2 separate regions of the Homo sapiens genome follow, and region 2 is linked to region 1. Evidence: fine-mapped expression QTL. Tissue or cell type: tibial nerve. Region 1 holds a variant in brackets; the other region holds the start of a gene. All regions are shown on one strand. Distances are from middle to middle.

The links. PIP is the estimated chance that this variant, and not a neighbour inherited with it, causes the effect.
Region 2: TUFM starts here. The variant in region 1 is the best candidate, but not a certain one, in a credible set for the expression of TUFM in tibial nerve (GTEx, PIP 0.88).

What each region holds. Positions count from the first base shown.
Region 1 is chr16:28,390,748-28,395,968 of GRCh38, reverse strand. EIF3CL (eukaryotic translation initiation factor 3 subunit C like) reads left to right here. Exons shown (of 21, transcript NM_001317857.2): 9 at 3,827-3,989; 10 at 4,114-4,217; 11 at 4,988-5,129. MIR6862-1 (microRNA 6862-1) reads left to right here and starts at 4,918; the gene lies at 4,918-4,987. The variant G/T (reference allele first, on the strand shown) is at 3,120.
Region 2 is chr16:28,843,837-28,849,057 of GRCh38, reverse strand. TUFM (Tu translation elongation factor, mitochondrial) reads left to right here and starts at 2,710. Exons shown (of 10, transcript NM_003321.5): 1 at 2,710-2,840; 2 at 2,952-3,146; 3 at 3,578-3,744; 4 at 4,003-4,107; 5 at 4,196-4,360; 6 at 4,507-4,639; 7 at 4,724-4,828; 8 at 4,957-5,108; 9 at 5,203-5,221. The coding sequence starts at 2,789. MIR4721 (microRNA 4721) reads left to right here and starts at 5,051; the gene lies at 5,051-5,139. It also overlaps a transcript of SH2B1 not described here. RefSeq lists an enhancer at 2,359-2,848.

The DNA of each region.
Region 1 (5,221 bases):
CTATGTAAAATTGCCATCAGGCTGTTTGTATAAGGTGTAGATGAAACACACAAATTTCATAGTTAGACTTGGAGCCCTTCCCAAGATACCCCATTATATATATGCAATTATTTGAAATTTGAAACACTTCTGGTTCTAAGCATTTCAGATAAGGGATATTCAGCCTGTATTTTATTTTTCTTTTATTTGTGTGTTTTTTGTTTTTGTTTTTGAGAAGGAGTCTCACTGTGTTGCCCCGGCTGGAATGCAGCGGTGCAATCCTGGCCCACTGCAACCTCTGCCTCCTGGGTTCAAGTGATTCTCAGGCCTCAGCCTCCTGGGTAGCTGGGACTACACGTGAGCACCACCACGCCCAGCTAATTTTTATATTTTTAGTAGAGATGAGGTTTCAGCATGTTGGCCAGGCTGGTCTTGAACTCCTGACCTTAGATGATTCGCTCGCCTCAGCCTCCCAGAGTACTGGGATTACAGGCATGAGCCACCACACCTAGCCTACATGTATTTTCTCATCCTCTTTTTTTTTTCCCCGTTTCTAGTTATATATATTTTCTTATTATTCATTTTGTTTTTTTCTGCTGGTTTGGGAGTTAGACGTGCTATGCTTTTAGAGGTTATTCTTGAATTTTTTTTTTTTTTTTTTTGAGACACTAGCCTGTTGCCGAGGCTAGAATGCAGTGAGTGGCGCAATCTCGGCTCACTGCAAGCTCCGCCTCCCGGGTTCACGCCATTCTCCTGCCTCAGCCTCCTGAGTAGCTGGGACTACAGGCACCTGCCACCATGCCCAGCTAAATTTTTTTGTATTTTTAGTAGAGACGGGGTTTCACTGTGTTAGCCAGGATGGTCTCGATCTCCTGACCTCGTGATCTGCCCACCTCAGCCTCCCAAAGTGCTGGAATTACAGGCGTGAACCACCGCACCCAGCCAAATTTTTTTTTGTTAACCTGTAAACTAACTTGTATACCTAATCAGAATAGTCTAAAATTAGTTGAATCAATGTTCTGAGGAAAACCCTTGAGAAAATAAAGTTAGAATTTCAAGTGTCAGAATCTTTTTGACATTGAGAGTTTGTGGCTTTGTAGTGTAGAAGAATAATTCACAGACACTATTTCACTTGTGTAACAAGGGAGACAGATTTTCAGATTAATTTCCAACCGAGCAAAAGCAGGATTTATATAGGAGAAAGAGGAACAAGGAGAGAGGGCAAAACCACAGAACAGTGGATTCTGTTTGCCCGTTTTTCTGTGTAAACTCTGATATTAACTCTCCTTGAGTATGCCACCCAGGGTTGGTGGATGCTCTAGAAAACACGATAGGCCCTCTGCCAGTAAGGGTTTTCAGCAACTCCAGATTCAGCCAGTCTAAATATACCCTTTCCATCATCAGCATTTCTCAGCCTTCATCTTTTGGTCAAAACAAGCTTGTAAAGGAGTGGGTTTATTCTCATGAGCTTCAGCCTCTTTGATGTGGGATAAGGCCATCTGTTGTCTTATGGTGATCTGAAGGTATTAGGGGGAAGTTCATCTATACCTGATGTCATGATTGACCTGTGAACTCTTTTTCTTTTTTTCTTTTTTTAGATGGAGTCTTGCTCTGTTGCCCAGGCTGGAGTGCAGTGGTGCAATCTCATCTCACTGCAACCTCCGCCTCCCTGGTTCAAGCAGTTCTCCTCAGCCTCCCAAGTAGCTGGGATTACAGGCACGTGCCACCACGCCTGGCTAATTTTTTGTATTTTTAGTAGAGACGGGGTTTCGCCGTGTTAGCCAGGATGGTCTCGATCTCCTTATCTCTTGATTGCCTGCCTCGGCTTCCCAAAGTGCTGGGATTACAGGCGTGAGCCACTGCGCCCAGCGACCTGTGAACTCTTACAGAGCTGCTGTCTACTTCTAAGAGTTACCTGATTCTGGAGGCGTTTTTTTGTTTTTGTTTTTGTTTTTTAAGTGAACCCCAGGATCTCTAGTGAGACTGAATGTCCGAGTTAGGATCCTAAGCAAGGGTATACATCTAGGGCTTTCCATCAGTAGTTGTGGTTGGGAAGGCATGGGAAAATGGTGTGGTCCTCTGCAGTGTAGTTAGGCCTGACTTCCGTTGGTGTCTCTCAATAATGAGTTTTTAGTCTCTTAACTATGTATTAAGTAGAGGTAATACTCGTTTAGAAATGTTGCTTTTATCTGTTGATTATATAGCTGAGGATATAAACATTTGTTATCTGATAATTTCTAACAAGATATGAATATACCAGAGTATAATCTGTCATAGGAGAGGTCAAGCCAAGTCTTAGGTCTTTCAGTTAGAATTTCATACAATAGTACATTTCCCTTTTGAGGTGTGTATCATACTATCTTTAGTGCTAGAAGTAATACTTTAGCCAAGGAAGTTTAAGTTCTTTTGAAGCATTCATTTTAAAAAATAGCTTTAGTTCTTCTGATCTCAGAGCTATACAGATGGTTTGGACCAAGAGGTTTTAGTTTAATGAACATGCTTTGCATATTTGCAAAGGATTTTACCTATAAAGTGAGTCATCATTAGAGTCTTGCAGTGGTACAGGGGAAAGATCCATAAGCTTTTGTTGTTGTTGTTGTTGTTGTTGTTGTTGTTTTTAATAGAGACGGGCTTTTTACCTTGTCACCCAGACTGGTCTCAAACTCCTGGGCTCAAGCAATACGCCCACCTCGGCCTCCCAAAGTGCTGGGATTACAGGCTTGAGCCACCGTGCTTGGCCAGTCCATACACTTTTGTTGAGAGTTATGGCATTGGTCTTCTGGCAAGGGAAGACTTAATTTAACTGGTAAACTTATAGACTATTCCAAAAACATATTCAAACCTTTTAAGCAGTGAAAATGAAATTTATTTATAAATGTTCAAATGGTAGATTATGGTTATTACATATGAGTTTTCAAAAATGTTGAGTCTTTCTGGAAAGATTTATTCTTCAGTATCTGTGCAAAGTTTGAAGTAATTTGTCTTTGCCATTTGGTTTGTATTTTGTTACATAAATACATACTCAAGTCTGGAGATGGTTTCAGGCAACATCCAGTAGCCTAAGACCATTTTAAGGTAGCTGGTGATCTTTTTCTGTTTTGTGGGGACCTTTTTTGTAATGAACATTTTTTTAAAATTCA[G/T]AATTTAGATTAATCGGTTGTCAAGAGAGGAGAGAAAGCGATAAAACAGTTTAGGAATAGTAAAAAAGAAAAAAATGTTTTTATATATTTGGGGGAACTGATTCATTGATTAGTTGGTCAGTCTGGAGAAAGCAGCTGGTATCAAAGAAAATAAGTTGTTTGTGGATTCTTTGGAAAACTGTAGATGTTAGCTTTGGAGCAAAATGACAGGTTGGTTTTTTTTTGTTTTGTTTTGTTTTGTTTTTTTGGAGACTGAGTCTTGCTCTGTCACCCCGGCTTAAGTGCAGTGGCATGATTGTGGCTCACTGCAGCCTTCTCTGCCTCCCAAGTTCAAGTGATTCTCGTGCCTCAGCCTCCTAAGTAGCTGGGACTACAGGCGTGCACCACCATGCCTGGCTAATTTTTGTACTTTTAGTAGAGATGGGGTTCCACCATGTTGCCCAGGCTGGTCTTGGATTCCTGACATCAAGTGATCTACCATGCTTAGCTGACAGGTTGTTTCTATTAATATGTCTACAGTGGCCTGGTTAGTACTCTGTCTTGTTAGAGATGGCTATGGTTATGGTTCACTGTGCCCTCTAGGTCATTGTTGTAGAGCATAACTTGGACCCAGGAGCTGCTGGAGGAAAAGAGGAAGTTGATGGGAGGAAGAAGCCTTAGAGGTGGGGAGGGGCTGATCTGTCATCTTCTCCCATGTCTGTCGGCAGGGCACCCACCACAGATGAGGACAAGAAGGCAGCCGAGAAGAAACGGGAGGACAAAGCTAAGAAGAAGCACGACAGGAAATCCAAGCGCCTGGATGAGGAGGAGGAGGAGGACAATGAAGGCGGGGAGTGGGAAAGGGTCCGGGGCGGAGTGCCGTTGGTTAAGGTGAGGGTTTCAGAGGTAAAATGAATTGGGGAACAGTTTGGGAGGACATAAAGGTCCCCTTGTGGGGAAAAGGCAAGGACAGTTTCCCGCTGGCATGTACATGACGGGATATGTACTGATACAGGAGAAGCCAAAAATGTTTGCCAAGGGAACTGAGATCACCCATGCTGTTGTTATCAAGAAACTGAATGAGATCCTACAGGCACGAGGCAAGAAGGGAACTGATCGGTAAGATTCGTGGGCCTGGGCAGTGGGATTGCAGGGTGGCAGAGGGTGGAGGTTGGGGGAAGGGATTGTTGGGAGGGTCTGTGTGTGGCTGTAGTAGAGGGAATTGTATGCTTGGGGCATCCCCGTCCATTATCTGCTGTTTACTCTTCTTGTGACTTAAAACCAATCACTTAACGTTTTGGATCTGTTTTCCCATCTATACAATGAGATAATGTTCTCCTCTTTTTTTTTTTTTTTTTTTTTTTGTTTGAGATGGAGTCTCGTTGTTGCCCAGGCTGGAGTGCACTGGCGCGATCTCGGCTCACTGCAACCTTTTTGCCTTCTGGGTTCAACCGATTCTCCTGCCTCAGCCTCCTGAGTAGCTGGGATTACAGGAACCCGCCACCATCCCTGGCTGATTTTGTACTTTTAGTAGAGATGGGGTTTCACCATGTCTCGAACTCCTGACTTCAAGTGATCCGCCTGCCTCAGCCTCCCAAAGTGCTGGGATTACAGGCATGAGCTACCACACCTGGCTTTTTTTTTTTTTAAGATTAAAAAAGTAAAAGAGTGTTTACCTTCTTTAGTTATTAGGTAACAGAGGATGGTGGTAGGTGTGAAGCATTTCACAGCATTCCAGGATGGTTGGGATTATTGTTGCTTCTGTTTGGAATTTATAAAGGAGAAGCAGGGATATGGGTGATGAGGAGGGCGCGTTATCCGAAGCGGGCATGCTGGGAGAGACTTTGTGATTTGTCTCCAAAGCCTCACCCAGCTCTCTGGCCCTCTAGTGCTGCCCAGATTGAGCTGCTGCAACTGCTGGTTCAGATTGCAGCGGAAAACAACCTGGGAGAGGGCGTCATTGTCAAGATCAAGTTCAATATCATCGCCTCTCTCTATGACTACAACCCCAACCTGGCAACCTACATGAAGGTGAGAGCAGTGAAGAGGCTCATCTCAGGGCATCGCTGGTGGGTTGGGGGAAGAAGGTACCTAGCATCTTAAGACTCAGGGGCTATGGAGGC
Region 2 (5,221 bases), 450 kb before region 1:
AACTGGAGGGCCAGGAAGAGAGAAGTCTTAGCAAGTTCCTCACTTTATCTGAGCAGTAAAATGAGAGTTAAATTATAGTACAGTCTGGCTGGGCATGGTGGCTCACACCTATAATCCCAGCATTTTGGGAGGCCAAGGTGGGTGGATCACTTGAGGTCAGGAGTTCAAGACCAGCCTGGCCAATATGGTGAAACCCCGTCTCTATTAAAAATACAAAAATTAGCTGGGCGTGGTGGCAGGCGCCTGTAATCCCAGCTACTCGGGAGGCTGAGGCAGGAGAATCGCTTGAACCTGGGAGATGGAGGTTGCAGTGAGCCGAGATCGTGTCACTGCACTCCAGCTGGGCAACAGAGTGTGACTCTGTCTCAAAAAAAAAAAAAAAAAAAAAAGGACAGTGCGGTGTGCACACTTTTTGGGGTTTAGTGGTGGTGGATTCCTTAATCACCCTGACCGTCAGTTTTCACACCTGCAAAATGGAGGAAATAATAGTTCCTACTACCCAGGGTAGCACTGGGAGCGCTGATTGTGAAACAATAGGAATGCCTGAACATCATAAAGCTCTAGTTCAGAGTTTCCTAAACTCCTCTGAGTTTTCATTTGAAAAAAAATTTTTTTTTTTGGAGACGGAGTCTCGCTGTGTCGCCCAGGGTGGAGTGCAGTGGCACCATCTCAGCTCACTGCAAGCTCCGCCTCCCGGGTGCAAACAATTATCCTGCCTCAGCCTCCTGAGTAGCTGGTACTACAGGTGCACACTGCCACGCCCAGCTAATTTTTTGTATTTTAGTAGAGACAGAGTTTCACCGTGTTGCCCAGGCTGTTCTCGAACTCCTGAACTCAAGCAATCCACCCGCCCGGCCTCCCAAAGTGCTAGGATTACAGGTGTGAGCCACCACGCCTGGCCAAAATATTTTTATAGAGATGGGGTCTTTCTTGGCTGAGCGTGGTAGCTCACGCCTGTAGTCCCAGCACTTTGGGAGGCCACAATGGGCGGATCACTTGAGGTCTGGAGTTCGAGAGCCGTCTGGCCAACGAGGTGAAACCCCATCTGTACTAAAAATACTAAAATTAGCCAGGCGTGGTGGCACATGCCTGTAGTCCCAGCTACTCAGGAGGCTGAGGTGGGAGAATTGCTTCAACCCAGGAGGTGGAGGTTGCAGTGAGCCGAGATCGCCCCATTGCACTCCAGCCTGGGCGACAGAGTGAGACTCTGTCTCCAAAAAAAAAAAAAAAAAAAAAAAAAAGATGGGGTCTTTCTCTGTCACTCACGGTGGGGTGCAGTGTCATGATCATACCTCACCACAGCCTTGAACTCCTGAGCTCAGGCGATCCTCCTGCCTCGGCCTCCTGAGTAGGAGGGGCTATAGCTGCATGCTACTGTGCCTGGCTAATTTTAAATTTTTTTTTGTAGAGATAGGGTCTCCTAATCTGCCCAGGCTGGTCTTGAACTCCTGGCTTCAAACCGTCCTCCCACCTCAGCCTCCCAAACTGCTGGGACTATAGGCTGGCACTATAGCCACCGTGCCCAGCCTCTTCTCAGTTTTAGAAGAGTGTTTGTTATATAGCTTCCCAGTCTGTGCATAGACCCCACGGAATCATAACCTCCAGGGGAGGAATTAGGGAATCTATTTGAAACAAACACTGTCCACTGAGTCTCAGGATCTGATGAGTTCCGAAACATTAGCCAGGGTTAAGCAGCCATAATTAACACTTTGGAGTGCCCTGTGGAAGCTGCCATGAGATGATGGATGTGAAAGTTAAGGGACATTGACTACCCTTGCACCCATTCATTCAACATTCACTGCATGCTCCACCCTGTTAGGTGCTGGGGACACCGACAGATTAAAGGAGACTCAGGCTCCCCTTAAAGGCTCCCCTAGCTGGCTCCTCATCCTTGGCTCCTCATCTGCAAAATTAGATGGGTGGGGCGATGCCCAACGGAACTGCTCCTTAGGCTGCTGAGGGACTACAGGGGTGGGCAGCGAAGCTGTCTGTCTTGTGGGCTCTGGCCCTGTGAGGTCTAGCAGTACAGGGTCCCCGCAAGCTGCCTGACCTCACAGGGCCCAACACTGACTCCTACCCAGTTCATCTCCTCTCAGGGCTAGATGTCAGGCTCTCCCTATGAAGTGGATACTACTATTCCCATTTTACAGATTAGAAAACAAAGTCTCAGCGAAGAGGGAGGTCACACTTCACCCCATCCCCGAAAGGCGTCCAGGACCTGGTCCCCTACCTCCAGCTGCGGCAGAGGCGGCCAGATATCTCGCAAGACCCGCGTAGCGAGTCGGACTCCGGGGGACTCGGGGTCTCTCTCTGCCGGGCCCAGGAGGAGGTTCCTGAGCAGTCGGAGCCGCAGCTGCCTCCCGGAGCCCGAGCCCCTCCCTCCGGGTCCGGCCTAGCCCGCCTGACTCCCACTCTGATCACCTCCACAGCCCGCCGACCTGAGAACTACTACGCCCATGAGCCTTCGCGGCGCCGGTGATTTAGGGGACGCTCCTCAGTGCCCCCTGCGACCGCCAGAGAGAACTACGTTGCCCCTCAGCCCGAGAGGCGCGAGTGGTGGAAAACCTCTCCATCATACTCCGCCCTCGAGACACCAGCCCCCTCCATGACGTCTTCAGCCGCGCGCCCGACGTCGGCTGAGACGGCCATAGACACTGGCGGCTAGAGGGGCCCGGACTTGCCCTCCCAGCTCTAACTTCCGCCGGAAGTGCCTTCCAGCCGCAGGCGCCCTTCTTCTTCTGTGCGCTCGGGCTCCTGGTCCCGGCTCCCCGGTTACCGGGGCGCGAGTATGACCACAATGGCGGCCGCCACCCTGCTGCGCGCGACGCCCCACTTCAGCGGTGAGTGGTCAGGGAGGGCGATGGCGGCCCAGGAACACTTTGGGGGAGTGGTAGGTGGCTGGGTTCGGTCTGACCCCTTCCCTGCCTGACTCCAAGCTTCGGTCCCGGCAGGTCTCGCCGCCGGCCGGACCTTCCTGCTGCAGGGTCTGTTGCGGCTGCTGAAAGCCCCGGCATTGCCTCTCTTGTGCCGCGGCCTGGCCGTGGAGGCCAAGAAGACTTACGTGCGCGACAAGCCACATGTGAATGTGGGTACCATCGGCCATGTGGACCACGGGAAGACCACGCTGACTGCAGCCATCACGAAGAGTGAGTGGGGTTGGGGCGTCCAGCAGCGCCCTATCTACTGATGGGACCTGGAGCCAGGGAGGCAAGGCCAGCAGAGTGTCTGCTGGAGGAGTTTACTGTGGCCCCAAGAGCCCGAATTTGTGCGACAGGTGGATTGGGAGATGCAAGAGACAAATTTCTCCTGAACAGGAAGAACTTTGTGATCCACCAATGGCTTGGGGATCACAAAGTCGTGGGGAATGCTCTGCAAGCAGAGGCTGTACCCTAAAGAAGTCACAGGGCAGACCCTTAAGGCCCTCTAACATTTCTTTCTGACCCACAGTTCTCTCTGCTGGAAGAGTTAGAGATTGGAGGAGGTTATGTATTTAGGTGGGAGGGTTCAGGGGCGTGGTCTAAGCTCTGCCTCTAGCACTGGAACTTTAGCTGAGAGGTGTGTTCTTTTCCTCCTTTAGTTCTAGCTGAGGGAGGTGGGGCTAAGTTCAAGAAGTACGAGGAGATTGACAATGCCCCGGAGGAGCGAGCTCGGGGTATCACCATCAATGCGGCTCATGTGGAGTATAGCACTGCCGCCCGCCACTACGCCCACACAGACTGCCCGGGTCATGCAGATTATGTTAAGGTGAGGGTTGCTGGGACACTGGAGACAGGGCCAGAAGCTGCCTCTTGTCAGGATAAATGTTAGGCTTGTGGGGAGGAGATTAAGATATTCAGTGTTTGGGTATGAGATGGCAGGTTTGTGGTCTTGGCCACGCAGAATGGGTGGTGAGGAGATGGTAGAGAAAGGTGGGCCTGAGTTTCTAACTGCTACACTTGGCTATATGGATGTGAACTGAAGAGCTCGTTGAACTTGGCTGTTTCCTTTCCTTCTCCTCTCCAGAATATGATCACAGGCACTGCACCCCTCGACGGCTGCATCCTGGTGGTAGCAGCCAATGACGGCCCCATGCCCCAGACCCGAGAGCACTTATTACTGGCCAGACAGGTACTCAGAGCCTGGGTAAGGATGCAAAAGGGAAGAGTGGGGAGTTGGGCCCCTCTGTATATTGTCCCTGTCTCTCTGGCATCTACAGATTGGGGTGGAGCATGTGGTGGTGTATGTGAACAAGGCTGACGCTGTCCAGGACTCTGAGATGGTGGAACTGGTGGAACTGGAGATCCGGGAGCTGCTCACCGAGTTTGGCTATAAAGGGGAGGAGACCCCAGTCATCGTAGGCTCTGCTCTCTGTGCCCTTGAGGTGAACGCGGGGTCAGGCAGGGCAGCTGCTGCAGAGGGTGGGGCTGGATGGGCACCCAGAGCTCTGCTTTGTGTCTGGGAAGTGGCTCTTGATAATCGAGGGAAGTAGAATGGGGATTTCAGAGTCCTGGCACTTCCCCTCAACAGGGTCGGGACCCTGAGTTAGGCCTGAAGTCTGTGCAGAAGCTACTGGATGCTGTGGACACTTACATCCCAGTGCCCGCCCGGGACCTGGAGAAGCCTTTCCTGCTGCCTGTGGAGGCGGTGTACTCCGTCCCTGGTGAGGACTCTGTCTGTTCCCACGCACTCTCTCTAGCAGAAGCCTAGCTCGGGGTCCCTGATATCCTGTCTTATTCCCTCCCAGGCCGTGGCACCGTGGTGACAGGTACACTAGAGCGTGGCATTTTAAAGAAGGGAGACGAGTGTGAGCTCCTAGGACATAGCAAGAACATCCGCACTGTGGTGACAGGTTTGGGAAGCCAGTCTGGAGAGCAGGGCCTGGCTGAAGGGTGGCCTTACCCCGGCAGATCCCTTGTGCCTTCCCTCTGTCTCACATTCGCCTTCCTTCTCCCTGCTCCTTTTCCCTTTCCGTCCTAGGCATTGAGATGTTCCACAAGAGCCTGGAGAGGGCCGAGGCCGGAGATAACCTCGGGGCCCTGGTCCGAGGCTTGAAGCGGGAGGACTTGCGGCGGGGCCTGGTCATGGTCAAGCCAGGTTCCATCAAGCCCCACCAGAAGGTGGAGGCCCAGGTGAGGGCTCCAGGTGACGGTGGGCAGGGTTGAGCCAAGCTCTCCCCAGCCTCCAGCCAAGCCCAGCTCACCGTCATTGCTTGCTCTCCTCCAGGTTTACATCCTCAGCAAGG